Regions from separate parts of the Homo sapiens genome. Here regions 2, 3 and 4 are each linked to region 1. Evidence: fine-mapped expression QTL. A gene starts in region 1. Each other region holds a variant in brackets. All regions are shown on one strand. Distances are between the middles of the regions.

Region 1 (8,143 bases):
TTATATTGAGGTTATTATTGCAATGGAATTTTCAAAAATGTGAGTGTGCTTTTTTTGTTTCTAGAATCTATAAGACACATATCTGTTCTAGGTATAGTGTCTACTAAGACAATTTCACAATCCAAAAAATAGTTGGTTAGCAAGGATATCAAGTACAACACAGAGACTAGCAAAGAGGGAAGGCTATGAAATAAAATGCTTATAGATGGCTAGTCTCATATCTCTGCTTTATTCCTATAAATGTATCTCATGATATATGTAATCAGAATTATAGTTATTTAATCTCCTCCTTTTTTGTCCATTGCCTCTTTTAGGTCCATGGTTTTTTGGTGAAATCATTGATGGCAAATTTGGTTGCTGCTTTTCCTTTGGGATATTTGTTAATGGACATTTCCTACAAGGCAGCATAACATTTATAATTGGAATTCTCCAGGTAAGAAGTCAGAAAAGCAATTTAAGAACATCTTGGACTTGTCAGACTAATTGCATAACAGTTATGAATTAAATCCAAAATCCAGAATTAAGTACCATAGATCATCTTTCCTACTTTACTTGCAGGGCAGTCTTTAATAAAAGCTTCATTTGCTTTTAAAGTGCTTCCTAAACTCCTTCCACCACTCTCATGTAAACATCTAAAATACATTTTTTTTTCCCCAAGACAGTGTTCTGCTGTCGCCCAGGCTGAAGCACAGTGGTGCAATCTTGGCTCACTGCAGCCTCCACCTCTTGGGTTCCAGCGATTTTCCTGCCTCAGCCTCCTGGGTAGCTGGGATTACAGGCATGTGCCACCATGCCTGGCTAATTTTTGCACTTTTAGTAGAGACAGGGTTTCACCATGTTGGCCAGGCTGGTCTCGAACTCCTGACCTCAGATGATTCACCTGCCTTGGCCTCCGAAAGTGCTAGGATTATAGGCGTGAGCCACCATGCCTAGCCTAAAATACATTTTTGTCATGAAGTGTTTATAAGAGGTGAAAGAAGTTTTTGTTGTTTTTGTTTCACTGTGCTTTTTCATTGACAAAAAAATGAAACAAGGGATTATGGTAGAAAAAGTTTTAGATTTCTGAGTAAACCAAAACTGATTATGATGATGAAGAAGGAAAATATTTTAGAGGGAGGAAACTAAAAAATAGACACATTAAAAAAATGGGTCAGTTATTCAGTGGAAACTGCATTATTCAAAAACCAGACCTGGGCTTTCCTAGCAATGTACTTGTTTAGGAAACAAACTGATGTATTAGGTTTACATTTGATTCCTTTAAAATAAACACACAAAGAACCTTGATCCATAGAAAAACTACATAAACAGATTTGAAAAGTATTTATCTAACAGTTTCTTTATTTTACTCACCTAATGGAGTTAGTGGACCAAAATTTGAAGTTTTGGAAGAGATCCAAAAACATTCAAAATAAGTTCATGGCCTTCTAACAGGGCAGTAGAACATGATCCAACAGGATTAGAGACAGCCAAGTAGGAAAGACTTCTGCCTAGCAAACACTGACCCAAGTCCAGAATATTCTCTGCATAGCAGCATTATATACATGAGTAGGTCCTGGGTTCATTTCAGTTTTCTTTTCTTTTCTTTTCTTTTTTTTTTTTTTTTTGAGATGGAGTCTCGATCTTGTCGTCCAGGCTGGAGTGCAATGGCATCGTCTCGGCTCACTGCAACCTCTGCCTCCCTAATTCAAGTGATTCTCCTGCCTCAGCCTCCCATGTAGCTGGGGTTACAGGTGCCTGCCACCATGCCCGGCTAATTTTTGTATTTTTAGTAGAGACAGGGTTTCACTGTGTTGGCCAGGATGGTCTCGAACTCCTGACCTCAGGTGATCCGCCCGTCTCGGCCTCCCAAAGTGCTGGGATTACAGGCGTGAGCCACTGCACCCAGCCTCATTGCAGTTTTCTATTATGTTGATGGAGGCTGTCTCTAAGGAGCTCTCTCATACCAAATGAATCCTGAGCCTTACCAAAAGGCAGGGTTTTTTCCTTTGTAAATGTTTACATTCATATTCTAATAAATAGTACACTAATAATGGATTTTATGTATCATCCAGACCCATGAATCCCAAATCTATATCTCTGATCTAGACCTCTTCTCTGCACTTCAAGTGCCTCTATATCCAATGGCCACAGATGTCTAACAGGCATCTCAACTTCATGTGATGTCTCTCTGATAGGAACATTATTTCCACCCCAAACCTGTTCCTCTCTGTTTTTCCAGTTTTAATAAATGACTCCACCATTCACCTGATTTCTCCAAGATGTATCCTCAATTATTCCCTTTCCTTCATACCCTGTATCTATTTCACCAGCAAGCTCTACCTTATTTGATCTGCTTCCAATGCATATCTTGAATCCATCCACTTCTCTCCATTTCTGTTTTCCTAATCTAAGTTGTAATTATTTCTTGCCTGGGTCTTCTCCCTGATATTCTTGCCTCCTTACTCTCAGCTTAATACAGAGCATCCAGTGTGCTCTTTTAAAAACTTTACAATCAGCTCACTTACTTTTCAGCTTGAAATGCTTTGAAGCAGAGCAGTGATCTGGGTCCTGCCGACTGCCCCAATTTCCACCTGGCTCATGCTCTGCATGCACTTCCTTAAAGAGGCCAAGACCTCTCCCACCTCTGGGCTTTTCATTTGTTCCTTCTGCCTAGAATGCACTTCCCTCCGCTGATTCATTCTTGTCCTTCTGGCCTCTGAGAGCCTTTCTCCCAGTTACCTTCTCATGACCCAGTTCTTTCCTTCATTGAACTAATCACGATCTGTAATTATATTTTTTGGTTTTTTTTTTTGTCTGTCTTCTCCCTGTTAGAATGTAAGCTCTATGACGGACCTTTTCTAACTTGTTTGCCATTGTGTCCCCAACTTGGAGCCTAGCTCATGCCTGCTACATAATGGGTGCTCAATAAATATTTGTTAAATGAATGAATCATACAGCAGCTCAACTTGGATTATAATTTAGATACTCTAATTTATATTCCAGTACTTATCATGCTACCTCAAACAAAAATGGAGGTAAGAAAAAAAATACTGATAGCCAAGTCCTCCCCTCACTCCACCAAAAAAGAGGGGTTGTTGTATGTGTGTGTATACATTTACTCAGTTCAATTCCAGCTTAACACCATTGGGTATTAACTGTGTATATGATACTGTACTACAAGTTGGGACTTCAGCATAAATTAAATGATACCTGCCTCTAAGATGAATAAAAGGACATGGGCAAATACACAACTAGCCACAAGTCAGCTGTTGTGTTATAAGCAACTGTGCTTGAAGTAAATTAGCTAACGCCAAGACAGATAGCAGCATAGTCTTAGGATCCACTAATAATGCATTATTAAGACCAAACTCTTCCAAGGACTTGGGAGTAAGCTATGGTTCTGTTCTTTTCCAGCTGGCGTTTTTTAACATCCCCTTGATGGCTTACATGTGTTGGAGCTTGCTGCAGCGGTGCTTTGGTCACAACTTCAGGTCTCATCTCCATCAAAGAAAATACTTGAAAATTATGCCTGTTCACCTACTTATGCTACTGCTGTACATCTGGCAGGTTTATTCCTGCTACTTTCTTTATGCAACATACGGCACCCTAGCTTTTTTATTCTCCCCTTTGCGGACCTGGTTGACACTGCTGACACCTGTTCTCATTCGTTATGTGTGGACACTGAACTCCACCAAGTTTGGAATCTTCATGGTGCAGTTAAAAAGCCACCTGAGCTCCTGAAGGCCATGTCTCACCACTGGCAGCTGGGCAGAAGCCCAGCCTCTGTGTCTGTAGCCCAGGCCTCTACCCCAGTAGCAGGTGGAGGGCCAGGATTGGTGGGTGAGCTTTAGGGAGCAGCTGCTCGTTTGGAGTCCTGGACGTTGGAGGGATTACCCACTACTGATACCTGCAGAATGGACTGCAGAAAAGTCTCAAAAATAATGCCTTTATTCCTTCCCTCCCTAAGGAGGCAAAGAGTTGATTTACCTTTGTGAAGAGAAAACCCTTATCTAGGACATCCACAGGGTAGAGGTTGGGTGTGTGTACGGGAGTGTCTGAGGCCCAGTGTGTTTTTTAGGGTTACCCCATGTAAAGCACTTACCGCTGTGCTTGGAATTCAGCAGCTGTCAAAGGTGCAATTTCAGGGGCAGGGAACCTTTGAGGATCTGGGCCCGACCCTCACTACCCCTGAGATATTAGTTCCCAGGCCTGTTTTCCCACAGGATTGTGGGCTCTCTGCTTCCTTAGTCGGAAGTGTTTTCAACTAATCAAATAAATGAATGAATGATGAATAAGAAAGACGGTGAGCCTGAGGCTTGCTTGTGTAGCCTGGCCTAAGGGGCAAGAGAAGGCGTGGCCTGTCCTGGCCTCTGAGAGTGGGATGGTTGGTGCTGTACCTCAGGGGACAGGGCGGGGCGGGAGGAGGCGGGGCCAGGCCTGGTCTCTGATAACGGGATGGGTGGTGCTGGACCTCGGGCGGGGCCGGGCCTCGTGGCGGGAGGAGGCAGGGCAGGGCCTCTGGGACGGGGCTGGACGGCTTGTTGACGGAAACGAGCCCTTGACGCTGTGGCCCGGAAGTGGAGCGGCTGTCGCAGTGCGGCTCCGGCAGTGGCAGCGGAGGCCTGTGTTTGCGGCCTTCGGCAAGCGACTGAGATGGCGAGCGCAACTGCACCTGCAGCCGCAGTCCCCACCCTGGCTTCGCCTTTGGAGCAGCTCCGGCACTTGGCGGAGGAGCTGCGGTTGCTCCTGCCTCGAGTGCGGGGTGAGCTGACGGAGTTAGAACGGGCGACGGCAGGGGCGGGCTCGGGGTCGGGGAGAGGCCGGGCTCGGGGTCGGGGAGAGGCCGGGCTCGGGGTCGCGGAGAGGGCGGGCTGGGGCGGCGGCGGGGAGCCGGGCTTGGGCGAGGGAGGTGGCTCCGCTTACCTCAGCTTTTCCATTCGCCACCGTTCGGCCCCCACACGCCACACCCACAAGTCGGCGAAGCCCAGGAGACCACCGAGGAGTTTAATCGAGAGATGTTCTGGAGAAGACTCAGTGAGTGCGCCTCCTTCCGGGCTCCCCTTGCCTCAGTTCCTCCAGCGTCCCGACCCCTTTTCCTCCCGCTGTCCCCCACGGAGGGGACTGCTCTCCCCCGCTGCATCCTTTCTGTGAGGTACCTTACCCACCTCAGCACCTGAGAGGGTGAAATAGAATTCTAACCTCGACATTCGGGAAGTGTTTTTGAGAAGTCTCGGTCGGTAAGGGAAGTCTTCCAAGTCCGTGCAGCACTAACGTATTGGCACCTGCCTCCTCTTCGGCCACCCCCCAGATGAGGCAGCTGTGACTGTGTCAAGGGAAGCCACGACTCTGACCATAGTCTTCTCTCAGCTTCCACTGCCGTCTCCACAGGTGGGCTTCACTTTCGTGGAATCCTTGGGCTGCCGAGTTACACCTTAGGAATCCTCTAATTTTCTTTCCACCTTTTGCACGCACGCCAGGAGATTTCTTTTCTTCATCTGTCCAGTGAGGTTACCGTTTTTACTTCACAGGATTGTTGTGAAGACCGAATTGCCAAGTGCAGTTCCTGGCGCGGAGTAGGCAGGTCTTATAAATATTGGTTCAGTCTGAAGTTTATCCTGGTTGTTTCCCTTCTGATAATTTTTTAAGCACTTTTTATTTGCTGGGTGTTTTCACATACTTGATGGCCATCTGACAGATGAGCAAGGAGGCTCAGAAGCTCAGCTTAAGATTTAAAAAAAAGCAGGGGGGCTAGAATTTAAATCAAGGTCTATCTGATGTCTAAGCTACCTATTCTGTTATACTGCATAATACCCTTTTTATATTATTTTTTATATTTAATCAGTAACATATGTAGATAGTACAAAATTCAACAGATATCAAAGTGTGTTAAGTTTACCTTTCCACCCACTTTCTCATTTTTGTCTCCCCCAGTTCCTTTTGCATTATTCCACGTATATTCTGTGCATATATACATTCATATACATTTATCTGTATGTGTCAGCTTCTTTTTACACAAATGATACATAAACACTGTTCTGGACCTTCCAACTTAGAATTACTGCAAACAGTGTCGTGATGAATTACCTAATTCTGTGTATGTGTGTATATTGGTAGAAAAAATTCCCGGAAGTAGAATTGCTAGAACAAAGATTTATGCATTTTAAATATTCCTTTATTATAAAACTAATGAAAGTAAACATGTTGGCTATGACCACGTATGCTCTATGCTCAGTTTTTCTAGAGTTGTGTATGCTTAATATAGGAGTAAGATTCTTTTAAAATGGCATATTCATTGCCTTATTTGATTTTCATAGTCAATTGTTTTAATTTTTCAGTCTACATATATAGGTGTTTGGAAAGGATATAAATATCTTCTGCTGCATGTACCTACAGTGATAAACTCTCTCCTCCTACATACCTTTGAGATTTTTTTTTTTTTTTTGAGACAGAGTCTCTCTCTGTCACTCAGGCTGGAGTGCAGTGGCACAGTCTGGGCTCACTGCATCCTCTGCCTACCGGGTTCAAGCAGTTCTCCTGCCTCAGCCTCTCGAGTAGCTGGGATTACAGGCACCTGTCACCACGCCTGGCTAATTTTTGTATTTTTAGTTGAGACGGGGTTTCACCATGTTGGGCAGGCTAGTCTCGAACTCCTGACCTCAAGTGATCCGCCTGCCTTGGCCTCCCACAGTGTTGGGATTACAGGTGTGAGCCACCGTGCCTGGCCTACCTTTGAGATTTGTGATGAGGAAACAAGAGATGAATTGTATGAGAGCACTTCAAAAGATTCATGGAAAATACTTATTTCAAAAAGAGTAGTTAATATTACCTTATTTTTCTTATCTGCTAACCCCTTTCTTTCAAATGCACTTAGGACTTGCTGCTAAAACTCACTGCAAGTAAGATACCACAAGGAGGCAGCATAGAACTGATTTTCTATACATGCTCAGGACAGTAGTTTCACTCATAGATGAAAAGTTAGAATTTGGATTTATTTGAAATATATACAAATATTCAAGTATATACATATATTCAAATAAATACATATATGTATATATGTGTGTATATACACACATACATACACATGAATCATCATTGCCTTCTTGAGATCTCACCACTTTAGTCCTACTAAAAGATGGGTGGTTGTTGGTTTTTTTTTGTTGTTGTTGTTGTTTTTTAAATTCCAATCTGTATGGAATGATACTTTAATAAAATTATGTGCTCGGATGTTGAATAAATGTCAAATTGCCATAAAAGTTTCTAAACACTCTCAGTCACTGCTTATCTCATCCCTGACTGGTCACAAACAGTTTGTAGACTGGCTCCAACCTGGACCACATTTGTATAGTATTGACTTAGAATTTAACAGAAAATTGAGGACAAGGAAGATGAGAAAGCCAGTGACCACCTAGAAGGAAAATAGTTAACATGGAGCATTGTCGAGTCCATGCTAGTTACCTTTAGTTACATATTCTGATTCTGTTAAAAAAAGAGAGAGACCTGGTTAATGGTTTAATAACCATGGTCTGTCAGTTGGTCTGTCTGTCTCTCTCCCTCCCTCTCTTTTCTGTAAAGGGCCAGTTAGTAAATATTTTAGATTTTGTAACCAACTACCCAACTCTGCCCTTATAGAGCAAACACAACTACAGACATTAAAACCAGTGAGTATGGCTGTGTCCCAATACACTTCATTTCCAAAAACAGGCAGTGGGGCCTGACTTGGCCTGAGGACCACAGTTTGCCAGCTCCTGGTCTAAGATATCATGAATATCTTGGGATACAGAGTATCAGGAATAAGTTTTTTCCTGCTGTTTCTTAATGGTTTATTGAGTTGTCAGCCCAATATCTACTATATAGCTAACTCCTCCCTGGTATGTGATGAGTATAGTAGGCCTGCCTTCATACCAGGACTTCAGAAAATGTTTGATGATGCTGTAGAAATATCTGCCCTAGGCCGGGTGCAGTGGCTTACACCTGTAATCTCAGCACTTTGGGAGGCCAAGGGAGGTGGATCACCTGAGGTCAGGAGTTCGAGACCAGTGTGGCCAGTGTGGCAAAACCCCATCTCTACTAAAAATACAAAAAATTAGCTGGGTGTGGTGGCGGGTGCCTGTAATCCCAGCTACTTGGGAGGCTGAGGCAGGAGAACTGCTTGAACCTGGGAGGT
Region 2 (8,144 bases), 470 kb before region 1:
CTGTGTCGCCAAGGCTGGAGTGCAGTGGCACGATCTCGGCTCACTCCAGCCTCCGACTCCTGGGCTCAAGAAATTCTCCTGCCTCAGCCTCCCCAGTAGCTGGGACTACAGGTGCCTGCCACCATGCCCAGCTTATTTTTTTGTATTTTTAGTGGAGACGGACTTTTACTATGTTGACCAGGCTGGTCTTGAACTCCTGACCTCATGATCCGCCCATAAGATGAGATATATTACTATTTGTGAATTAAACAACATATACAGTATATAAATACAACATACACAACAATCACTTTTTGCAAGAACACATACAAACAAAAAGATACACTCTAAGCACATCAGAATGATTTGGATGGGAGTGTGAAATGGGGATGAAAAGTAAAAAAATTTGAGAGCCAGACACGGTGGCTCACATCTGTAATCTCAGCACTTTGGGAGGCTGAGGCAGGAGGATTGCTTGAGCCCAGGAGTTTGAGTCCAGACAGGGCAACATAGAAAAAAAAAAAAAAGCCAGGGTGGTGCTGCACACCTGTAGTCCTAGCTACTCAGGAGGCTGTGGTGGGAGGATTGCTTGAGCCTGGGAAGTCGAGGCTGTGGTGAGCTGTGACCATGCTGCTGCACTCCAGCCTGGGTGACACAGCAAGACCCTGTTTCAAAAAAAAAAAATTTCTTTTGAATCATCTTTTAAAGTTTGATATAATAATCCTTTTAAATTGACAAGGCTTGGTGTTTCAGTAGGGGATTAGTTATTTGAAAAACTTCTTCAATGGAAGATGGTCTGTTAAGATCAGGGGTTAGCAAACTATGGCCCTTTGGCCAGATCTGGCCTGCTTCCTGTTTTTGTAAATAAAGTTTTACCGGAATACAGTCATGCCCATTCATGTACATGTCTTCTATGGTTGTGTTCCCACTACAGTGGCAGAGAGTTGAGTAGCTGCAGCTACTCAAATGGCCCACAAAGCCTTAAATATTCAGTATCTAGCTCCCCACAGAAAAAGTTTTGCCAGCCTTTGGTTTAGATATTTCATCTCTCCTGGAGCCCCTTTTGATTCTAACTTATTCATTTCTGTGTATGTTGTTATCAGTTTCTTTTTCCTATTGTGATAGTTTCTCAGTCTTTTCTTGCTTCGTGGTTAGTAATTTTTTGGAATGTATTTATCTGCTGTTTCTTGCTTTTTTTCTTTTTTTTTTCATGTAAGACAGGTAATGTGCTGACGTAACAAGGTTTGAGAGAGGCACTTCTGAGACATGTATGTGAAAACCCGATCGTCATGCTTACGAACTACAAAAGGATCGTGTCTGTGGTTTTCTTATGGTTGGATTGAAGTTATGCGTTTTTGGCAAAAAAAATACCATAGAAGTGATTTGCCCTTCTGAAGGTTGACAGATTAGGCAAAGAAAAATACAGGATGCTAGTTAAATTCAAATTTTAGACAACAAATAGTTTTATAGTATAAGTATGTCTCATGCAATACCTTATTCTCGGTGCATTGTATCAGAGGTTACCGGATACCGACATGTCCTGTTTCTGGTGATGTGAACTTTGATGTTAAGGTGGTGGTTGGGGGTCTCTCCACTGAATGTTGCTATATTGTCCTTTATGATTAATGAACATGGCTGAATGTGGTGGCTGACGCCTGTAATCCCAGTGCTTTGGAAAGCTGAGGCAGGAGGATCACTTGAGTCCAGTATTTTGAGATCAGCCTAGGCAACATAGTGATACGCCATCTCTACACACACACACACAAAAGCTATGTTGGTGGTGCATGCCTGTGGTCCCAGCTACTTGGGAGGCTGAGGTGGGAGGATCGCTTGAGCCTGGAGGGGAATGGAGGCTGCAGTGAGCCATGATTACATCATTGGCCTTGGACAGAGGGAGACCCTGTCTCAAAAAATCTTGGAGACTAGCTGGGCAAGGTGGCTCACGCCTGTAATCCCAGCACTTTGGGAGGCAGAGGCGGGCGGATCACGAGGTCAGGAGTTCAGGAACAGCCTGGTCAGCATGGTGAAACCCCGTCTCCACTAAAAATACAAAAATTAGCCAGGCATGGTGGCACACGCCTGTAGACCCAGCTACACAGAAGGCTGAGACAGGAGAATAGTTTGAACCCGGGAGGCGGGGTTTGCATTGAGCTGAGATGGCGCCACTGCACTCCAGCCTGGGTGACAGAGCAAGACTCCATGCCCCACAGCAGCCCCCCAAAAAAATATTGGAGATGATGGAAAATCCTGTTTTTCCTCAAACTTTCATCCACTGATTTTAGTGTCTACTGGTGTATCTTACCTGTAAAAATTATTACTGTGATATTTTAGGGAATTTTGTATTTCCCTCATTTATTCTACATTTATTAATTGGAACTTTTCTCTAAGAAAGTGCAGTCCCTTCTTCCGCCACTTAATTTATTCAACTATTTAATTTTTTTCAGTTTGGAATCATATTCTTTGGGGCGTAATTCAATACAGTACTGTCATTATTAATTTCATTGTTCAACTTGTTCCAGCTTTAATTATTTGGAGTTCTTTCAGCTTGGGTCTTGTGTCCTTTTGACATGCCCTGTCTTTTTTTTTTTTTTTTTTTTGAGACAGGGTCTTGCCGTGTTGCCCAGGCTAGAGTGCAGTGACACAATCATGGCTCACTGCAGCCTCGACCTCCCTGGGCGCCGGTGATCCTCCCACCTCAGCCTCCTGAGTACCTGGAGTACAGGTGTGCACCACCATGCCCGGGTACTTTTGTATTTTTGTTTTCTAGAGATGGGGTTTTACCATGTTGCCCAGGCTGGTGTTGAACTCCTGGGCTCAAGGGATCTGCCCGCCTGAGCCTCCCAAAGTGTTGGAATACGGACGTGAGCCACCGTGCCTGGCCCTTGAGCACTTCTTTAATTGATTTTTTTATTGTTATAATCCATTGGCTTTAGTATATTCATAGAGTTGTGTATCCATCACCAATTTTAGGACATTTTCATTACCCCCCTAGTTATTCCCTAAATTCACCATTCCCCAGCCCTTGGCAACCACGAATCTACTTTCTGTCCCCATGGATTTGCCTATTCTGGACATTTCATATAAATGGAATTACACAATATATGATCCTTTTTGATGGCTTCTTTCTCCTAGCGGAATGTTTTCAGGATTGTGTTAGTTTCTTAGAATTGCTGTAACAAATTACCACTCACAGAGTGGCTTCAAACCACAGACATTTATGCTCTCATAGTTCTGTAGGCTAGAAGTCCAAAATGTTGGTGTTAGCAGCACCATACTCCCTCAGAAAGCTCCTGGGAGAAGGATCTGCTCCAAGCCTCTTTCCAGGCTTCTGATGGGTTACCAGCAATCCTTGGCATTCACTCCCATTTCTATCTCTGTCTTCACATGACATTCTTGCTCTCACTTGTGCGCTCTCTCTCTCTCTCTCTCTCTCTGTGTGTGTGTGTCTGTCTCCCTGTCTGTTTGTCCCCGTGTTTTCACATAGCCTTCTTTTTTTTTTTTAATTTAACTTTTTTTTAAGAGACAGGGTCTCTGTCACCTGGACTGGACTGCTGTGGTGCAATCACAGCTCATTCTTACCTGCAACACCTGACCTCAAGTGATCCTCCCGCCTCAGCCTCTCAAAGTGCTGAAATTACCATCGTAAGCTACCACATAACTTTTTTTTTTTTTTTTTGGAGACAGAGTCTTGCTCTGTTACCCAGGCTGGAGTGCAGTGGCACGATCTCGGCTCACTGCAACCTCTGCCTCCTGGGTTCAAGCAATTCTCCTGCCTCAGCCTCCCAGGTAGCTGGGATTACAGGCATCCGCCACCACGCCCCGCTAATTTTTTGTATTTTTAGTAGAGACGGGGTTTCACCATGTTGGCCAGGCTGGTCTCCAACTCCTGACCTCAGGTGATCCACTCGCTTCAGCCTCCCAAAGTGCTGGGATTACAGGCGTGAGCCACTGCACCCAGCTCCACATAGCCTTCTTAT[A/T]AGGACATTAGTCATTGGATTTAGGGACCACTCTAATCCAGTACTATCTTATATTAACTTGGTTACATCTGCAGGGACCTTATTTTCAAATTAGGTCAAATTCACAGATACTGGGAAAATACTTCAACATATTTTCAGTGGAGACAGTGATTTAACCCACAACAAGGGGTCCTTCATGTTGTAAAATATATGAGAGCTTCATTCGTTTTTATGGCCGAGTAATACTCCATTATATGAATAAACCACATTTTATTTATCCATTCTTCAGTTGATGGACATTTAGGTTGTTTTGTGCTTTTTGCCTACTAATGAATATTGCTGCTATGAACATCCCTGTAAAGCTTTTGTATGGATATGTTTTCATTTCTCTTGGGTATGTATCTAGAGTTGAGTTGCAGGATCATAGAGGAACTGCCAGACTGTTTTTCACAGTGGCTGTCCTATTTTACCTTCCCACGAGCAGTATATGAGCAGTGTGTTTCTCTCCGTCCTCACCAACAGTTGCTATGACCTACTTTTGATTATAGCTGTCCTAGTGGATCGGAAGTAGTACCTTATGTGGCTTCAGTTCCATTGCCCTGATGGCTAATGGTGTTGAGCATCTTTTTATATATATATATATATTATATATATATATATAATATATAATATATAATATATAATATATATATAAATGTGCCTTTGCCCATTTATATGTCTTCTTTGGAGAAATATCTAGCAGGATATTTTGTCTATTTTAAGATTCGGTTATTTGTCTTTTTAAGAGTCCCTTAGCAAATATATAATTCACAGAAAATGTCCTCCCATTCTTTGTGTCTGTTCACTGTCTTGATATAGTGCCCTTTGAAGCCAAAAGTTTAATTTTGATGATGTCCAGTTTATTTTTTATTGTTGTTCCTTGTGCTTTGGTTTCATATCTAAGAAACGAGTGCCTAATCCAGGATCACAAAGATTATGCCTATGTTTTCTTCTAAGAGTTTTATGCTTTTAGCTTCCACATTGCATTCTTTGGCCCATTTTGAGTTAATTCTTACATATGGTGAGAGCTAGGGGTTGAATTTCATTCTTTTCCATATGGATATCCAGTTCTCCCAACAACATTTGTTTAAAAGATTATTATTTCCCCCATTGAATTGTCTTGGCACCCTTGTCAAAGATCAGTTGACTATAGACATATGGCTTTATTTCTGGACTCCTAATTCTATTCCATTGATCTACATATCTATCCTTATGCCAGTACCACACTTTTTGTGTGTGTGTGACAGGGTCTCGCTATCTTGCCTGGGCTCGTCTCAAACTCCTGGCCTCAAGCGATCCTCCCACCTCAGCCGCCCAAAGTGCTAGGATGACAGGTGTGAGCTGTTGCACCCAGCCTCACACTGTCTTCTTTACTGTAGTTTTGTAGTACCTTTAGAAGTCAGGAAGTAGGCATCTTCCAACTTTGTTCTTTTTCAAGATTACTTTGACTATTCTGGGTTTCTCAGATTTCCATATGAATTTTAGGATCAGCTTGTCAATTTCTGCAAAGAAGTCAGCTGGGATTTTCATTGGGATTACTTTGATGGGTAGATCAATTGGGGGAGCATTGCTATCTTAATATTAAGTCTTTAGCTCTGTGAATATGGGATGTCATTGTGTTTATTTAGGTTTAATTTCAACAATGTTTCGAAGTTTTCAGAGTATAAGTTTTATGCTTATTTTATTAAACTTATTCGTAAGTATTTTATTCCTGTTGACAGTATTATAAATGGAATTGTTTTCACTTCATTTTCAGTTTCTTCATTGCTATTATGCAGAAATAAAATTGATTTTTATATATCGTTCTTGTCTCCTATACCCTTGCTGAATTCATTTATTAGTTCTGATGGTTTTTTAAAATAGATTCCTTAAGATATTCTATATGCAAGATCATGTCATCTGCCTTTTTTGTTTTTGTCTTGCCAGTTGTGCTGGCTAGAATCTCCAGTACACTGTTTATTAGATGTGGTGAGAGCCGATGTCCTTGTCTTACTCCTGATTTGAGGAGGAAGGTATCCATCTTTCACCATTAAGTATGATGTTAACTGTGCATGTTTTATAGCTGACCTTTATCAGGTTGAGGAAATTCCCTTATATTCCTAGTTTTTTGAATATTTTTATCATGAAAAGGTACTGGATTTAGTCAAATACTTTTTTCTGGTGTCTACTGAGATAATCTTACTGGGTCTTTTCTTTTATTAATATAGTGTATTGCATTGATTTTTGTATGTCGAGCCAGCCCTGTGTTTCTGTGATAAATCCTACTTGCTCGTGATATATGATCTTTTATGTGTTGCTAGATTTCAGTTTACTAGTATTTTGTTGAGGATTTGTGTGTGTGTATTCATAAGGGATATTACTCTATAGTTTACTTGTGATGTCTTTGCCCAGTTTTTGTGTCAGGGTAATTCTGGCCCTATAGAATGAGTTGGCAAGTGTTCCCTCCTGATTTTTGGAAGAATCTGGGAAGGATTGGTATTAATTCCTTAAACGTTTGGTAGATTTTACTAATGAAGCTATCTTGAAATTTTCTTTGATCACTAATTTAGTATCTTAAATTTGTAAATAAAATATGCACTAAGATTTTTTTTTTTTTTTTTTTTTTGAGACGGTGTCTTGCTCTGTCCCCCAGGCTGGAGGGCAGTGGTGCGATCTCAGCTCACTGCAAGCTCCGCTTCCTGGGTTCACGCCATTCTCCTGCCTCAGCCTCCCGAGTAGCTGGGACTACAGGCGCCCTCCACCATGCCCGGCTAATTTTTTTGTATTCTTTTAGTGGAGACAGGGGTTTCACCATGTTAGCCAGGATGGTCTCGATCTCCTGACCTCGTGATCCACCCGCCTCGGCCTACCAAAGTGCTGGGATTACAGGCGTGAGCCATCCCGCCCGGCCTGTACTAAGATGTTTTATTTCTCCTTGAGTCAGTTTAACTTTTGAGTCAGTAATTTACATTATTGAATTTGTTGGCATATAGTTCATAGTATTAATTCATTTATTTTTATTTCTTTTCATGGATGTTTTTAAAGCTAAAAATTTCCCTCTGAGCATTGCTTCAGCCATTTTCCATAGCTTGTGACATGTATTTTCATTTTTAATATAATTTTGCATTTTCTGTTTGTATTTCTTCCTTGATTCAATTGTTGAGAATTTCTTAAACCATTTTTGAGGCCAGGTACAGTGGCTCATGTTTCAAACTCCTGGACTCAAGGGATTCTCCCGCCCAGCCTCCCAGGCAACTGTACTACAGGCACAGTTATCTTTTGAATTATATTTTCTTGTAATACTTTTATACTCCTCCATCTCCCAGTATATCTTTGATCCATAAAGCATAAAGGATCCATTTTGGTATGTCTGTGAAATGGGTCTCTGATGCAATCTTTTTTTTTTTCAGATGGCTGCCCATTTGTCTCAGCAGTACTTATTGATTAATTTATGGATATTTATTTTTGGAAGTCAGTATCCAATAATTTTTGGATATTTATTTTTGTACAGCACTGGGAACAGATTAGGTTACTTAGGAATATATTATGGAGTGAGAAAATAGGGCCTAGGCCTGAATTTTGAAAGAATCCCAAAATGTCAACAGTTGAAGAGGATGTATCAACAAAAAAAAAAAAACCACTCAGAGAGATGAGAAGCCGGGGCCTCTGGAAGTGATTCTGTCAGTGAAAGGGAGAGACTGGCTAAGTCAAAGCTTGCTGAGAGACTCAGGAAATGTAGGACAGAAGTTATTTACATGATCCAGCCACACGGACACCGTGGACCTTGGTGACTGCTGTTTGGAGGAGTGACGAGGGCAAATGTTAGATTAGGGTGGGTTCAGAAGTCAGTGAGAAGTGGGAGATGGCAAACAGCGAGACTGGTTGCAAGAAGCTTATCTGTGAAGGGCAGGAGAGTGAAGAGGAGGGTTTTAAAGATGAGAGAAGCCGGGCACAGGGGCTCACGCCTGTAATCCCAAAACTTTGGGAGGCCGCAGAGGGGAGGATCACTTGAGCCCAGGAGTCTAAGACCAACATGGGCAACAGGGTGAGATCCTGTCTTTACAAATTTTTTTTTTTTTTTTGAGATGGAGTCTCTCTCTGTTGTGCCCAGGCCGGAGTGCAGTGGCACAATCTCGGCTCACTGCAACCTCTGCGTCCTGGGCTCAAGCGATTCTCTCAAGTAGCTGGGAT
Region 3 (8,000 bases), 860 kb before region 1:
AGGGAGGGGTTTAAGCCTCCAGATGACTGCTGGCAGGCCTGGATAATATCCAGCCTCCCACAGGAAGCTGGTGGAGCAGAGTGTTCCCTAACTCCTCCAAGGAAAGGAGACTCCCTTTCACTATCTGCTAATTAACGGGGCCTTCCCAGGTACTGGTGTTACCGCTTGACCAAGGAGCCCTCAAGCGGCCCTTATGCGGGCATGACAGAGGGCTCACCTCTTGCCTTCTAGGTCACTTCTCACAATGTCCCTTGAGTACCTGACCCTATACCCGCTGGTTATTCTAGGTTATATTAGTAATGCAACAAAGAGTAATATTAAAAGCTAATGATTAATAATGTTTACGCTAATGATTGATAATTGTCCATGATCATCTCTATATCTAATTTGTATTATAACTATTCTTTATTCTAACTATTTTCTTTATTATACTGCTACAGTTTGTGCCTTCAGTCTCTTGCCTCGGCACCTGGGTAATCCTTCGCCCACACATGATAGCCAAAAGGTAGAAACAATCCAAGTGCACATCAAAGATGAACACATAAACAAAATGTGGTATATACATGTAACAGAATATTATTCAGCTATAAAAAGAAATGAAGTTCTGATACATGCTGCAACATGGATGAACCTTGAAAATATGGAAAATGAAATAAGACACGAAAGGACAAGTATTATATAATCCACTTATATGAAGTAGCTATGATATGCAAATTTGTCAAGACAGAGATGAGAGGGGGCTGAGAGGTGTGAGTGTTAGGGAGTTACTGCTTAATGATTACAGAGTTTCTGCTTGGGGTGATGTAAAGGTTTTAGAAATAGTGGTAATGCTTGTACTACATGGTGAATGTAATTAATGCCATTGAATTGGACACTTGGAAATGGTTAAAATGGCAAATTTTGCTATATATATTTTAACACAATTTTTAAGAATCAATAATGTAATATGCCATAAAAACCCTCATTAAATTGTGCATTTTAGATGGGTAAATTGCATGGTACGTGAATTCAGTAAAGCTGTTAAAAGTATTGCAGCATCATTTCTGCTGCATTCAGTTGTTAAAAGCAAGCTAAGTCTAGCCCATGTTCAGTTCCAATTGTGATGGGAGGAATGACAATTTATGGATATGGGCACCCATGCAGGAATAAGTGCTATCAAAGCCCACCTGCAGCTACATTCAACATTGTTATTAGTGAGAATGCTGGTTTATGATAAAGCACTTCCAAAATACTGGATCTCCCACCATGTTCAAAGACAGTAAAGATTATTTGTTGACTCCTGCTGAGGGTTTAGCTCAATCATATACCATACCCTCCTCCGTCTCCCATCCAATCTAGTTATATCACAATTTTTGGTTAAATCAATATTCAATGTTTACATTTTTCACATGCTCAAGGGTGTCTGTTACTTTATCCAGTCTACTTCTTTCCCTGGAGACTTCCTTCCCTACCAGAGCTCTTCATCTTCCTCCTCCCATCTGGACCATTGTTCTCTAGGTTCCCTGCACAGCTTTCATCTCAGAACTTACCTTTGCTGTTTTCTGGTGTTGTATCCCTCCTTTCTTCAGTTCCCTGTTTTTCTCTTTTCTGGTTTATTCCCTTGCTGTGTTTATTTGTTTGTAGCATCTTCTGGTAGTTTCCTAAGAACATTTGCATTGGAGGTACTCTTTTTGCTTCCTTGCAGGTATGAAACCATCTTTTTTCCTACCTTTACCTTTGGCTGATAATTTGCCTGGCAAGACTGAATATTCTTTCTCTCAGAATTTGAAGGCATTTCTTTTACTGTCTTCTACCTTCTTGCTCCAAAACCATTCTTAATTCTATTCCTTTGTTCCTCTGTATATAATCTATCTTTTCTCTCTGAAATACCTTCTCTTTATCACTAACATTCCAAATTTCCAGTATTCTGAAATTTTGTAATAAAATCCCTTGATGGAGATCTTTTGTTTGTTTGTTTGAGTCAGGGTTTTGCTCTGTGCCCAGGTTGGAGTGCAGTGGTGTGATCATGGTTCACTGCAGCCTCAAGCTCCTGGGCTCAAGCGATCATCACACCTCAGAATCCTGAGTAGATGGGACTTAACAGGCATGTGCCACCATGCCCAACTAATTTTTTCATTTTTTATATAGGCAGGGTCTCCCTAGGTTACCCAGGCTGGTTTTAAAACCCTAGGCTCAAGGGATCCTCCCACCTCAGCTTCCCAAAGTGCTTTACAGGGATTACAGGTGTGAGCCACCATGCCTGGCCCTAGGTCTTTTAAAATAATTATTGTTCTGGATGTTAGATGTGGACCCCTTCAATCCTGAGAATTGTGTCCTTCAGTTCTGAGAAACTGTTTTGTATTATTCCTTAGATTAATTTTTCCCTTCCTTTTTTTCTTTCTACTCTACGGATTTTATAATCTCCTTTTCCTTTTTTGCCTAGTTTTTGAGCAATTTTCTCAATTTTATCTTCTAGGCTTTCCATTTATGCTATCATGTTTCTGCTTTCAAGGAGCTCTTTCTTATCCTCTGATGGTTCCTTGGTTTTTGTTTTCATTTTATGCAAAGCAATGGCAAAACATTTATTATCCTGAAATGTGTACATCCTATTTTTTTCAAGTAGCAAATTTGCTGGTAACATAATTTATTTAACCTGTTTCAGTCAGACAAACTCATGATCAATGCTGCTCTGTATAATTTCAAGTCTGATGAGCCTCTTTTTTGTTTTTTTGTTTTTAAACAAAAAACACTCTGTTGCCCAGGCTGGAGTGCAGTGGCGTGACCATGGCTCACTGCAGCCTCTAGCTCCTGGGCTCAAGCAATTCTTCCGCTTTAGCCTCCTGAGTAGCTGGGACTGTGGGCATGTGCTACATGCCCAGCTAATTCTTTTTATTTATTTATTTTAATTTTTTTGTTGAGATGGGGTCTTGCTCTGTTGCCCAGGTTAGTCTTAAACCCCTGGTCTCAAGCAATCCTCCTGCCTTAGCCTTCCAAAGCACTGAGATCTTCTAAGTATTTTTACCCCACTTCTAAAACTTGATGAGGAATTCAAAATAGCACACCACGTTAAATGACATTTATTGTTTTATAAATTGTATACAGGTTGAGTATTCCATGCTTGGGACTCTAGAGTGTTTCAGTTTTGGGATTATTTTGAATATTTTCATTAAACTTACTGGTTGAGCATCCCAATCTGAAAATCCAAAGCCCAAAATGCTCCAATGAGCATTTCCTTTGAGTGTCATGTTGGTGTTCAAAAAGTTTCAGATTTTAGAGGCCAGATTTGGTGGCTCATGACTGTAATCCCAGCACTTTGGGGAGCCAAGATGGGCGATCACCTAATGTCGGGAGTTTGAGACCAGCTTGGTCAACATGGTGAAACCCTCTGTCTACTAAAAGTACAAAAATTAGCTGGGCATGGTGGCATGCACCTGTAGTCCCAGCTACTCGGGAGGCTGAGGCAGGAAAATCGCTTGAACCCAGAGGCGGAGGTTGCAGTGAGCTGAGATCGTGCCACTGCACTCCAGCCTGGGCGACAGAGCTAAACTCCATCTTAAAAATAAATTAATTAATTAATTTTAAAAAAAAGTTTCAGATTTTAAAGTATTTCAGATTTTGGATTTTCAAATTAGGGATACTCAACCTACACTTGTTTTATGCTATCCTAGTCTTGTTTAAGGGTATAATACCTTATTTCATCTCTCTAGAGATACTAATGATAATGTTTTGATATTTACTTTGGTTCCTTGCATTGTTCCTGTTTTCTTGGAGATCCTTTTCTGTTTCCTTATTTGAGTCACTGTCTCTGATTTTGGAGACTTTGCTCAAATGTGAGTTTTGAGACACAATCTCACTCTGTTGCCCAGGCTGGAGTACAGTGGTGCAATCTCGGCTCACTGCAACCTCCACCTCCTGGGTTCAAGCAGTTCTCCTGCCTCAGCCTCCCAAGTAGTGGGGACTACAGGTGCCCGCCACCACACCTGGATAATTTTTGTATTTTTAGTAGAGACGGGGTTTCACCGTGTTGGCCAGGCTGGTCTCGAACTCCTGACTTCAAGTGATCCACCCACCCC[G/A]GCCTCCCAAAGTGCTGGGATTACAGGTGTGAGCCACCACACCTGCCTCCATTCATATTTCATGGTGAGGCTCTGTGTGCCTAGATGAGGCTTCCACTCTAGTTTTGAGAGTGGGCATGTCTACTGGTGTTTGGGAGCAGGGTGAGCTCTTCTGTCAATAGCCTCCTCAATACCACTCTGGGGAGAGCTTCCCTGGCTTTGGCCAACAGTTACCACCCTGCTCCTGCCTGCCACCTGCCAAATTTTTGTTGAAATTACTCCACTCCCATTCTCTTTGTTTTTGTGGCTTTCTTCCTTTTTTCTTCTCTTTACTCAGATTTTAGTGTGACTTTAGGAGGGGAAGGAGATACATGCAAGTGGTTGACCAGAAGTCCTTCACGTTATCAGTAAACATTTTGATAATAATTTACTGAAACTTCTTCCCAACTTCAGTTTCTTTACCTTTAAGTGAGTCCCAATGCTGCACCCTGACTTAATTTTTCTAAAATATAGGTCTGCTAAGATTACATCTTGCCAGACTTTTGATGGCTTCTCATAAGACAAGATTCAGAATTCCTAACCTCAATTACAGGGCCCTTGACAATCTGACCCTATTCAGTTTCATCTTCTACTGGTCTCTCTCACAGTGATACCCTTGAATATTTATTTTTCTGTAAGCCTGTCATGTACTTCCTTGCCTCTGTGTTTTTTCTGTTCCCTGTGCCCGGAATGCTCTATCTATTCTTCCTGTCTGGTATATTCCCACTAACTCTACAAGGTCCAAACCAGGTTTTATCTCCTCTGTGAAGCCTTTCAAGACCCTATACTTCACCACAGGCAGAATTTATTAACCTCTCTGTGTTCTGGTAGCACTAAACTGATGCTTAACCTGGCAATTATACCTCAGGGCAGAGCACTTTATTTACACTCCTGCCTCATTAGCCAGGTTGTCACTTCCTTAAAGGCAAGGACTGTGCTTTCTTCTCCTTGTTATTCTAAGCATAAGCTCAGTGCTGAATACTCTGTAGACATTCAGGAAATGTTTATCAAATGAATAATGGTCATTGCCATGGCAGTTGACTCAGTTGTCATCTCCCTCTTTTAGGCACACAAGCCATGCCCCCTCTTTTCTCTTTGGGATACCACCAGTGCCGCTGGAACTATGAAGATGAGCAGGATGTAAAAGCAGTGGATGCAGGGTTTGATGAGCATGACATTCCTTATGATGCCATGTGGCTGGACATAGAGCACACTGAGGGCAAGAGGTACTTCACCTGGGACAAAAACAGATTCCCAAACCCCAAGAGGATGCAAGAGCTGCTCAGGAGCAAAAAGCGTAAGGTAAAATAAGCCAACATTTCTGAACCTTTTAATTACAGAGTTTTAAAAAATGTTTTAGACTTGCCTTGGCACATCAGTGGTGGAGAAACATCTGATAAAAAATGGCTGTGAAAATAGTAGATTCAAATATAATTGTCACTGTGATAAGAGAGAAAGTGAATGGTAAAAAGGTGATGACCCCATCCATTCCTGGCTTAGTTATCTAGGTCACCATAATGAAGAAGGGGTCTAGCATTTTCAGTTCCGTTTGTTGTGGCCACCCTGTAGTAATGTGATCCCCCCACTCAAAATTTAGTTTCCATGTCTCAATTGGTGACACCACACTTGCACTAAGAGTATATTAAAAAGTTTATTACTCATATAATGAGGCTTTCTGGGGAGAGCAGGGGTGGCTCCCAAGCTGGTTTGAAAATGGCTTGAGAGAACTGAGAAAGGAGATTGGCTCAGCTTTTATGGTGGTTAGCGGGTGGGGACAGGGCAAGGGCTCTTGCACGCAGGCTGAGGCTTAGATAGTTTGAACCCCCTGCTGGCACCAAAGGAGGGGGCACTAGAGCTTTCTTTGTCAGCTTGTCCAGATACGGGCCGAAGGGTAAGGGGGGAGTAGCAGGGCTTGAAAACGCTTAAAAGTCAAATATCAAATATGGTATCAAATTCTTTATTACACTGTTTTTCCTGCATGCTTCCCTGGTGGACTCCACCTGTCAATCTGGCCAAGAAAAGAACGGAAATAGAAAATGGGGAGGGAGAGAAGCCCCTGGAACATGTATAATGCTGCTTTCCAGTTCCAGGAGTGGTGGTGGTGGTAATAGCAATAATGAAAAGATGGAAGGAGAGAAGAAAATGGAGAGAGGAGAAGGGGGGCGAAACCCTATGTGTATCATGTGAGTGAATAAAGTCCCTCTCCTTGAAAGTAAGGTTGACTTTTCAACCCATTCCTTTGACCTCCCCACCAGGCTTTTCACAGACAGCCAGAGCCCATCCAGTTAACTCCTAATTTCCCAATTAATAAATAGTTACCATATATCAAGCTGTTATGGGCTAGACAATATGATAAAACACATTATTCCATCCAGCGATGACAAAACTATAAGGTAGGTCTTGTTACCCCATATTTTAGATGAAGAAGCTGAGGCTTAGACTGGTTTCAAAATTTACACAAAGGCACACAGTGAATAAATAGCATGGCAAGAATATGAACCATGGTCTGCCTGACTCCAGATCTTCTGTCCTTAATAAGTAGTTATTTAATGAGGCCTTGAACCTTCAAGATGCTATGGTAGTGCTGAAGGGTATACAGAGATGAGCTCCTTGTGGTCTTACAGTGAGTGAAGAAAAGGCAAGTATCCAACTACAATACAGGAAAGTAACATAAGGGCCAAAGAAAGGTCAGGGTAGGGGCAGGCCAAGAAAGAGAAGATTGTATCCTCAAGACTTAAGCAGGGCTTTGTTCCAGAGGTGCATTTTATTTTATTTATTTATTTTTTATTTAATTTTTTTTTGGGGACAGAGTCTCACTCTGTCACCCAGGCTGTAGTGCTATGGTGCGATCTCAGCTCATTGCATCCTCCATCTCCTGGGTTCATGCAATTCTCCTGCCTCAGCCTCCTGAGTATCTAGAATTACAGGCATGTGCCACCATGGCCAACTAATTTTTGTATTTTTAGTAGAGATGGGGTTTCACCATGTTAGCCAGGCTGGTCTTGAACTCCTGACTTCAGGTGATCCGCCCACCTGAGGCTCCCAAAGTGCTGGGGTTACAGGCGTGAGCCATCATATCTGGCCTAGAAGTGCATTTTAGATGAGCCCTGAAGCATGTCCCTAACTAATGAGTAAGCAGGGAGAGGGAAGAGGGCAATGCAGCCAGAGGAAGGAGCATTAGGGGTGTTCGGAAAGCAGTGCACAGGCAAGTTTGACAGCCAGGCATGTGAGGGTTCTAATAGTGGAGGATCTGACCAGAAAGGTTGGGACCTTTGTGTAAACTGCTTTGTATGCATTTGGAAACATTACAAGTTTTTGAATAAGGGGTTAATATCCAGAATATATAACAAACTCCTACAACTCAGCAACAACAAAAAAAAACAGTTAAAAAGTGGGCAAAGAACTTGAATAGACATCTCTCCAAAGAAGATACACAAATAGCCAACAAGCACAAGAAAAGATGCTCAACACCACTAATCATTAGGGAAATGCAAACCAAGACCACAGTGAAATCCCATTTTACATAATTAAGATGACTACTATTTAAAAAAAAAACAAAATAACAAGTGTTGGCAAGGATGTAGAGAAATTGGAATCTTTGTGCACCGTTGGTAGGAATGCAAAATGGTACAGCTGTTATGGAAAACAATATGATAGTTCCTCAGAAATTTAAAAATGGAATTACTGTATGATCCAGCAATTCCACTTGTGGGTATATACCCAAAGGAACTGGAAGCAGGAACCTGAAAAGATATTTATACACCCATGTTTATAGCAGCATTAGTCACAGTAGTCAAAAGGTCAAAGCAACCCAAGCTGCTTGGGTTGCAACTCCATTGACAGACGAATATGTAAACAAAATGTGGTATATACGTACAACAGAATATTATTCAGCCTTTAAAACGAAGGAAATTCTAATAGATACTACAG
Region 4 (8,144 bases), 86 kb after region 1:
CAGCAAACTGGTGCCAGAGTGTCTACTTCCCCTTCCATTGGAAGCCTCCAGGAGAACCGAAGGCGGGGCTGGACTGCTGCACTGCCACCTGATTACCGAGCAGATCACAACTGGTTTGCTCACTTGCCCTCAGGTTTTTCTTGGCAGTGTTGCTGAATTGAAAGGAGGTGTGGAGGCTGATGAACTGTCACAGCCTTATGCCGTGTGGGCCTTTGATAGCTCTTGAGCAATAGGGCATTCCCAGGGAGGTGCTGTGCTGTGGTGGAGAAGTCAGGAGGGAGAAGCGAGCTGATGGGCCCGCCAGAGGGATGCAGGGGGCTGCTGGAAGGAGCATCAGGGTCCCAAGACTCTGCTCACAGCTTAAAGCACCTCATTGAGCCGAGAACCCTGCTAGGTAACCAAGGCCTCTCTTTTATCCTGAAAAGTCACTTCCTGAACATTAAATGCAAACAGAACCCTCTCTGTCTGGATCTCCTTCGGTATGATTTCACTGTATTTAGCTTTGGCAGTGGCATTGTCTTGCATGAGACCTGGCAGGTCCAAGACAAATCACAAATAAAAGCAAATAATCACAAATAAAATAGAGGAAGAAAAATTGGGAAGATTTGTGGAGGAGGTGTGGAAATAGGTGAGAGGGTGGGAATGCCGGTGAGCAAGGGCCTTGATCCTAGTAAGAAAGGCACAAGCCCTTTCATAGGGAGAAAAGCGCAGGTGGAAGGAGAGAGAGGGCAGGAGGGGGAAGGGCTCTGCCTGTGGAGTGGGTGGGACCCCCATGCCTACCCTGTCTTTCTGTGCTCTGGGGCACTTCTCCCCACATCCCCTGCTTTCTGGGTCCTTCTCCCTGGGGAACCTCTTTCACCAGCATTGTCCTCCCTCCTGTATTTTCAATTCTCTCTGTCCCCACTCAGCTCTTTTTTAAAACCTATGTAATTATTTTTATTTTTAATGTCCAGAATGTGTACTATAAGGGCCAGGGCTTCTTCCTGGACTTAATTTTATAAATTCTTGATTGGTTGGTGAGACCAATAGCGATACTTTTTCTTGTCTAATTTGGTTTCCGGGAAAGCTTCGTTCAAGTCGTCAATGGTCATCTGATCAAATGGTATTAAGTTCCTCATCTTCTCCAGCTGTTTCTCATATTCTCCAACCTGGCCTTTGAGAGAGACACCCACTCAGCACAAGTTTTCCCATCTTCTTTTTCTTCAGCATCCACCTGGGCAGTATATTTATCCTCTGGTACAGGAAGCTTCAGGACATTAAACTTCTTCTCAAAGTCATCCACCAAGCCTGCCTTGGCCACATTGGCCTTGTAGTAAGTCCAGTCAATAGCTGGTGGATTCTCAGGTAAAGTAGCCAGCCTGGAGGTGAGGGTCTCATTCCAGGATTTCAGATAATTAGCAATGGCCTTTTGGTTTTGGGGTATCATCTCTGCAAAAGCTACCCAGTCAATGGTTTTTAGAGCAAGTTTTCACCCAGCCATCTTGGTATACTTCACTGACCATGGCAGCCCATGGCCCACACCCCACTCACCTCTTATAGGGTATATGTGCACAAATGCAGTTCACTATTTTAACACAGCACATCCACCTTCAACTCTCATCCCCAGCTTCCCTAGCAGCCCCTGCCCTTTCTCTCAACTCCACTTCTCAGCCAAGCTCCTTGCCCACTGCTTTGCCTCCCACCACCCCTCACCTGCTGCAGACTGCCTTCTGTCCCACGGCTGCCTCGACGCCACGCTCACCTCCCAGCTCTGAGGGCTGGGCTCTGGGCGCCTTTCCTGCTCTTACCCTGCAAGGCCTCCTGCAGCCCTGCGGGTACTGTCCACTCCTCCTGGGCTTAGGTGACTTCTCTCTCTTGGTTGTCTAGCTGCCTCCTTATCCCCACTGTCCTCTTCCTCTCAGTCCCCATCACAGACTTTCCCTTCTTGAACTGGTGCCTCCCAGGGATTTGTCCCCATCTCCTCTCTTCTCACTCCACTGGCTCCCGCGTGACACTGGGGACCCCCAGAACTGTGTACTGCGGCACCCTCTGCTGGACAGCTCCTCTGGGGGAAACCTTGGACACTTCACAGCCAAGGAGTCCAAATGGAACTCTTCCCCTTGCTCCTTCCTCTCAAAATACCTGCCCTTCCTCTTGCACGTCTGGTCTTGATGAGTGAGGACACTGTCCATCCATCACTTCAGGGGACACCTGCGTGCCACCTTGTACTTCTCCAGCTTCCTGATCTCCCTTTAGCCCATCAGTCCAGCCCAATTCCTGATGCTGTCCTGAAACGGTGCCCCCCTTGCTCTGCCTTCACTGAAGCCCCCGCTTACCTGGACAACTCCTAACCAGTTTCCCATTCACCCTTTCTCCAAATGAGTCACCAGTGATTTTTCTGAAGTGCCAATTCCATCAGGTTGCTCCCCTGCTTAAGATCCCACAGTGGGTAAAGTCCAGACTTCTCAGCATCACCCTCAAAGCCTTGAGGGTCTTCCCCTCCCCACCTGGAGGCCAGGAAGGCTGACCTCCTCTCTCCCGCACCTCCCTCTCTCCCTCTCTCTTGCATGCATCAGCCTCTCTCTTTCTGAAATGTCCTCCTCTCACTCTACTTTCTCTGGTACCCAGGCTCGAGCATCACCCCTCCAGGAAGTCTTCCTGACACCCTTCCTCTGCTGCACCCGGATTCTAATAGGGGCTGCTTCTTCTGTATTTCCTATTAGCCAACTCATGCCTCAACATTATAAATACTTATCTGTCTTTCCCCCAATCACCCTGGAGGGCATGGACTGTGTCTTATTAACAGCGTTCCCAGTGCTTAAGAATGACAGTGCCTAATAGTAGCAGAACGACTAATACAACCAGCAGTAGCTTTTAATAACATATACTATTTTGAGGTATTTATATGCATGACCCCACTTGGTCTTACAACATCCCTATAGTTAGTTACTGTTATTGTTCCTACATTACAGATGAGGAAATCGAGGCTTAAAGACATTAAATAGATCATTCACAAAGAACTGGTAGAGCTAGATTTTGAATGCAGCCGTCAGACTCCAGAGCCTGGGTGCTTCATAAGTGCTTGCTTGCTGCAATATCTGGAACATAGTTGGTTTTCCAGTTCGTATTTCTTGCCCGATAGAGTGAATGAATTAAAAGATGGTCCCTACATAAACAAATGGATGAATACCTGAACCCACTGCCACATGCTGAGATGGGTTAGCTGGGAAGGAGGAAGGAGCATAGGCAGGAGACTGTAAGGGGCATAGGCAGGAGAGTGTAAGGGGCATAGGCAGGAGAGGGGGAACAGGAAGGTAAGTGCAGCTAGGGTAACTGTGGTGGCCAAAGGAGAAAGTGCCCAATGGCCAGCGGGACACCAGTCTGTTTTGTGGTGCCCAGGCCAGCCTGAAGCATCTGGGAACAGTTGAGAGGATTTTGGAGCAATCAGGCAGTCACTCTGAGTAAAGTCCCTTGAGTTGTGCCAGCCTGAGTGGCTGAACTCTTGGCAGCTTTGCCCATGCCCCAACCTTGAGGAGAGGGCAGGGAACTCACACCCATTGTGGAGGGCCTGGGCCTCCCCCAAAAGACCTCACATGTTCAGGAGCACTTAGAGAAGTCTTGTTTAAGGTAGCCACTGGACAAGAGAGGAGGCGGAAGCACCGCAGGGGCACGAAGCCCATTCATAGGGTCAGGAAAACCCTGGCCAGCTCCTCTGCCTGGACCGTAGGGCTGAATAAGACCTGGGCTCTGGGCCTAGGGAGCTGGTTTATAGGTTCAGCCCCTCATTCGATTTCTGTGAGCCATTAGTCAGAGGGTATGTGGGTGAGGGTGCTGGGGAGAGGGAGGCAGCTCTGATAGAGCAGCTTGTCCCTCAGCACAGGGGAGGGGACAGGGAGAGAGAGGGAGGCTAAGCAGGGTTGATGAGCACCTTCCTGTC[C/T]GGAAGGAAGCAGGGCTGTGCCCACAGGGGAGGGACACCTGAACAGAGAAGTGAGGACACATCTGCCATCCGCATGGGGCAGGCCAGTGCTCACTAGGTGGGGGTGGAGAACCTCCAGAACTTCCTTTTTTTCTTTAATTTTACAGATGGGGTCAGACCTTTCTAAGACCCAGAGAGACTTGGGTGCTGATTCCGGCCCTGCCATGAATTTCCATTGTGCCCCTGGGCAGGTGACAGTTTCTTTGCCTATAAAATCAGAGGCTGTGACGGGCTGGATGCCTGGGTCTGAGGGAGGGTGAGGAGGTGCCCCACAGACGATTGCACAGGGAAGCCACAGCTGGCAGACGCCAATGGATTCCTCTTTCCCCTTCTTTTCTCACCCCTAGAAACAGAGACAGTCACCCTGGAGAAGGGATTAAACTGGTAGAGGGCCTCTGTGAGTGCACTTCACAATTTACAAAGCACTTCAATTAAAAAAATTTTTTTTAAACTTTTATTTCAGGTTCGGAGGTACATGTGCAGATTTGTTACATAAGTAAACTCATGTCAAGGGGGTTTGTTGTACTGATTATTTCACCACTGAATACTAAGCCTAGCACCCAATAGTTCTTTTTTCTGCTCCTCTCCCTCCTCCGACCCTCATCCCTCAAGTAGACCCCAGTGTCTGTTGTTTCCTTCTTTGTGTTCATAAGCTCTCACCACTTCTAAGTGAGAACATGAGATGTTTGGTTTTCTGTTCCTGTGTGAGTTTGCTAAAGATAATGGGCTCCAGCTCCATCCACATTCCTGCAAAAGACATGATCTCATTCTTTTTTATGGATGCATAGTATTCCATGGTATATATGTACCATATTTTCTTTATCCAATGTGTCATTGATGGGCATTTAGGTTGATTCTATGTCTTTGCTATTGTGAATAGTGCTGCAATGAATATTCGCATGCATTTGTCTTTATGATAGAATGATTTATATTCCTCTGGGTATATACCCAGTAATGGGATTGCTGGGTCAAATGGTAGTTCTGTTTTGAGCTCTTTGAGGAATCACCATACTGCTTTCCACAATGGCTGAACTAATTTACACTCCCACTAACAGTGTATATGTGTTCCCTTTTCTCTGCAGCCTTGCCAGCATCTGTTTTTTGTTTGTTTGTTTGTTTTTTACTTTTTAATAATAGCCATTCTAACTAGTGTAAGATAAGATGGTATCTCATTGTGGTTTTGATTTGCATTTTTCTAATGATCAGTGATATTGAACTTTTATTCATTTGCTTGTTGGCCACATGTATGTCTTCTTTTGAAAAGTGTCTGTTCATGTCTTTTGCCCACTTTTTAATGGGGTTGTTTTTCTCTTGTAAATTTGTTTAAGTTCCTTATAGAGACTGGATATTAGATCTTCGTCAGATGCATAGTTTGCAAATATTTCCTCCCATTCTGTAGGTTGTCTGTTTACTCTGTTGATAGTTTCTTTTGCTGTACAGAAGCATTTAAGTTTAATTAGATCCCATTTGTCAATTTTTGCTTTTGTTGTGATTGCTTTCAGCATCTTCATCATGAAATCTTTGCCTGATACTATGTCTAGGATGATATTGCCTAGATTGTCTTCCAGGGTTTTTATAGTTTTGGGTTTTACATTTAAGTCTTTAATCCATCTTGAGTTGATTTCTGTATACAGTGTAAAGAAGGGGTCCAGTATCAATCTTCTGGATATGGCTAGCCAGTTATCCCAGCACCATATACTGAATAGGGAGTCCTTTCCCCATTGGTTGTTTTTGTCAGTGTTGTCAAAGATCAGATGGTTGTAGGTATGGGGCCTTGTTTCTGGGCTTTCTATTCTGTTTCATTGGTTTATAGGCCTGTTTTTCTACCAGTACCATGCTGTTTTGGTTATTGTTGCCCTGTAGTATAGTTTGAAGTTAAATAATGTGATGACTCCAGCTTACAAATACTTTATATTTTTTATGTAAAATAAATATACATACTTATTTATGTATACTTTATATATACAAATACTTTATTTATTTATTTATTTATTATTTTGAGATGGAGTCTCACTGTCGCCCAGGCTAGAGTGCAGTGGCACAATCTTGGCTCACTGCAAACTCCACCTCCCGGGTTCAAGCGATTGTCCTGCTTCAGCTTCCTGAGTAGCTGGGACTACAGGTGCACACCACCATGCCTGGCTAATTTTTTGTATTTTCCGTAGAGATGGGGTTTCACCATGTTGGCTGGGCTGGTCTCTAACTCCTGACCTCAGATGATCCTCCTGCCTTGGCCTCCCAAAGCGCTGGGATTACAAGAGTGAGCCACTGTGCCCGGCTGCAAAGCACTTTAGAATACACTGCCTCATTTGATCCTCACAGCAACCCTATGAGGGAAAGTCAGGCTGACACTCCTATTATTATGTTATCATTTTACCCCTGGGGGAACCAGGGTCACACCATGAGGGAGTCCAGAGCTCTTTGCTTTGTATCACACAATAATGCTGGATGTCGTGAACCCCAAAACCATCAGCCACAAGGACCTGAAGATGACAGATTCTGTGCACACCATGGGGGGATGGGAAGACCAGGAATCAGGAGCCAAGGGTGCTGCCTGGCTGGTGCTGCTTCCTTGCTCCACAGTGGAACATTTCTTTTGTCACAGTTTGTCTGCAGGAGCCACTGCCTGGCCTGGGTGGCCAGCCTTACTCTGTTGTTGTGAGGCCAGGGGAGGCTTGCTTAGGAGCTGGTCTCAGGGGGCACCATAGCAGTGGGCATGAAGGAATTCCAGCGTTCCAGGCCCTGGGGGATGTCCAGCTGGAAGGGAGCTTTGAGATGATCTAGTTTATTCAACTGAGGTGGAAAAAGAAAGCCAGACAGGCTTGCCTAAGTGAAACGAAGAAGGAGGAGAAGGAGGAGGAGGGGAGGGGGTTGGGGGAGGATACAGAGTATAATTTTTTTTTTTCTTTTTGAGATGGAGTTTCACTTTTGTTCCCCAGGCTGGAGTACACTGGTGGGATCTCAGCTCACTGCAAACCCTGCCTCCTGGGTTCAAGAGATTCTCCTGCCTCAGCCTCCCGTGTAGCTGGGATTACAGGTGCCGCCACCACACCCAGCTACTTTTTGTATTTTTAGTAGAGATGGGGTTTCACCATGTTGGCTGGGCTGGTCTCGAACTCCTGACCTCAGGTGATCAGCTTGCCTCAGCCTCCCAGTGTGCTGGGATTACAGGCGTGAGCCACCATGCTCGGCCCAGAGTATAATAATTTTTAAAGTCAATTTTTAGTTGGGGACAGGGAAAATAATTTGAAAGGTAGGCTGGAAAGGCAGAAATGACCAACATCCACATACCCCTGAGAGGTCTTTCCCAGGCCAGTAGGAAGCCTGCCTGCTGTTCTTCTCCAGTGACACAGCCAGGGATAGGAAAGGAGGGCCGTGACTAAACATGAGGACTCAGTGCTTGGCAGAGAGGCGAGGTTTCACATTCCTGCAAGGGCAGCTCGGGTGGCCCTCTCCTGATGGCAGGGAGCCACCTGGAACACAGCATGACAGGGCAGTGACAGGGCACCACGGAAATGCCCAATGGTACCTCATGGGGATGGGTGCAGCTGACACATGAGGCGGAGTGAGGACATGCAGGCTCCTACCCTTCCTGACCCAAGCAGCTGCGTGCAGGCAGGGCTGGGGGCCACCCCAAGAGAGAAAATAGGCCGGGTGCAGTGGCTCACGCCGGTAATCTCAGCACTTTGAGAGGCCAAGGAGGGCGGATCACGAGGTCAGGAGTTTGAGATCAACCTGGACAACATAGTGGAACCCCGTTTCTACTAAAAATACAAAAAATAAAATAAAATTAGTTGGGCATGGTGGCAGGCAACTGTAATTCCAGCTACTTGGGAAGCTGAGGCAGGAGAATCGCTTGAACTCGGGAGGTGGAGGTTGCAGTGAGCCGAGATCGCACCACTGCACTCCAGCCCGGGCAACAGTGACAGACTCCATCTCAAAAAAAAAAAAAAAAAAAAAAAAAAAGGAGAGAGAGAGAGAGAAAATAGAAGGGAAGGAGAAGGAGGACTAGGGGCAAACAAAAAAATACAGAGAAGAGAGGGAGGGGGAAGAGGAGGAAGGAGAGCAGGAAAAGGGAGGAAAAGGGAGAAGAGGAGGAAGAAGAGGGAGAGAAAGAGGGAGAGGAGGAGGGGAAGGGAAGGGAAGACTGAAAGAAGTCAAAACTATAGAGCCGCGGAGCAGGTGAGGA

Direction of the effects. Positions count from the first base shown, and alleles are read on the strand shown. Sizes are in standard deviations (SD) of each study's normalised expression. Not every link is listed here.
As copies of A replace T in region 2, the expression in thyroid of the gene that starts at base 4,537 in region 1 goes down (moderate effect, 0.63 SD a copy in GTEx).
As copies of A replace G in region 3, the expression in monocytes of the gene that starts at base 4,537 in region 1 goes up (large effect, 0.78 SD a copy in Fairfax 2014).

The links. PIP is the estimated chance that this variant, and not a neighbour inherited with it, causes the effect.
Region 2: its variant is the best candidate, but not a certain one, in a credible set for the expression of CCNDBP1 in thyroid (GTEx, PIP 0.54).
Region 3: its variant is the best candidate, but not a certain one, in a credible set for the expression of CCNDBP1 in monocytes (Fairfax 2014, PIP 0.87).
Region 4: its variant is the best candidate, but not a certain one, in a credible set for the expression of CCNDBP1 in whole blood (TOPMed, PIP 0.83).

What each region holds. Positions count from the first base shown.
Region 1 is chr15:43,180,867-43,189,009 of GRCh38, forward strand. CCNDBP1 (cyclin D1 binding protein 1) reads left to right here and starts at 4,537. Exons shown (of 11, transcript NM_012142.5): 1 at 4,537-4,741; 2 at 4,954-5,013; 3 at 5,288-5,367. The coding sequence starts at 4,633. It overlaps TMEM62 (transmembrane protein 62), which reads left to right. Exons shown (of 14, transcript NM_024956.4): 13 at 315-433; 14 at 3,394-4,278. The coding sequence ends at 3,720. LOC124903478 (a long non-coding RNA gene) reads right to left here and starts at 5,021. Exons shown (of 2, transcript XR_007064604.1): 1 at 4,903-5,021. RefSeq lists silencers at 4,263-4,562, 4,783-4,872 and an enhancer at 5,043-5,142.
Region 2 is chr15:42,707,502-42,715,645 of GRCh38, forward strand. All of the region lies in intron 26 of STARD9 (StAR related lipid transfer domain containing 9), which reads left to right. LOC124903605 (small nucleolar RNA U13) reads right to left here and starts at 1,291; the gene lies at 1,191-1,291. The variant A/T (reference allele first, on the strand shown) is at 3,957.
Region 3 is chr15:42,316,649-42,324,648 of GRCh38, forward strand. GANC (glucosidase alpha, neutral C) reads left to right here. Exons shown (of 24, transcript NM_198141.3): 11 at 5,137-5,372. Among named protein-coding and RNA genes, the nearest start is that of CAPN3, 39 kb to the right of the region's middle. The variant G/A (reference allele first, on the strand shown) is at 4,053.
Region 4 is chr15:43,266,909-43,275,052 of GRCh38, forward strand. It overlaps TGM5 (transglutaminase 5), which reads right to left and starts at 20. Exons shown (of 13, transcript NM_201631.4): 1 at 1-20. It also overlaps the pseudogene ATP5PDP1. The variant C/T (reference allele first, on the strand shown) is at 3,917.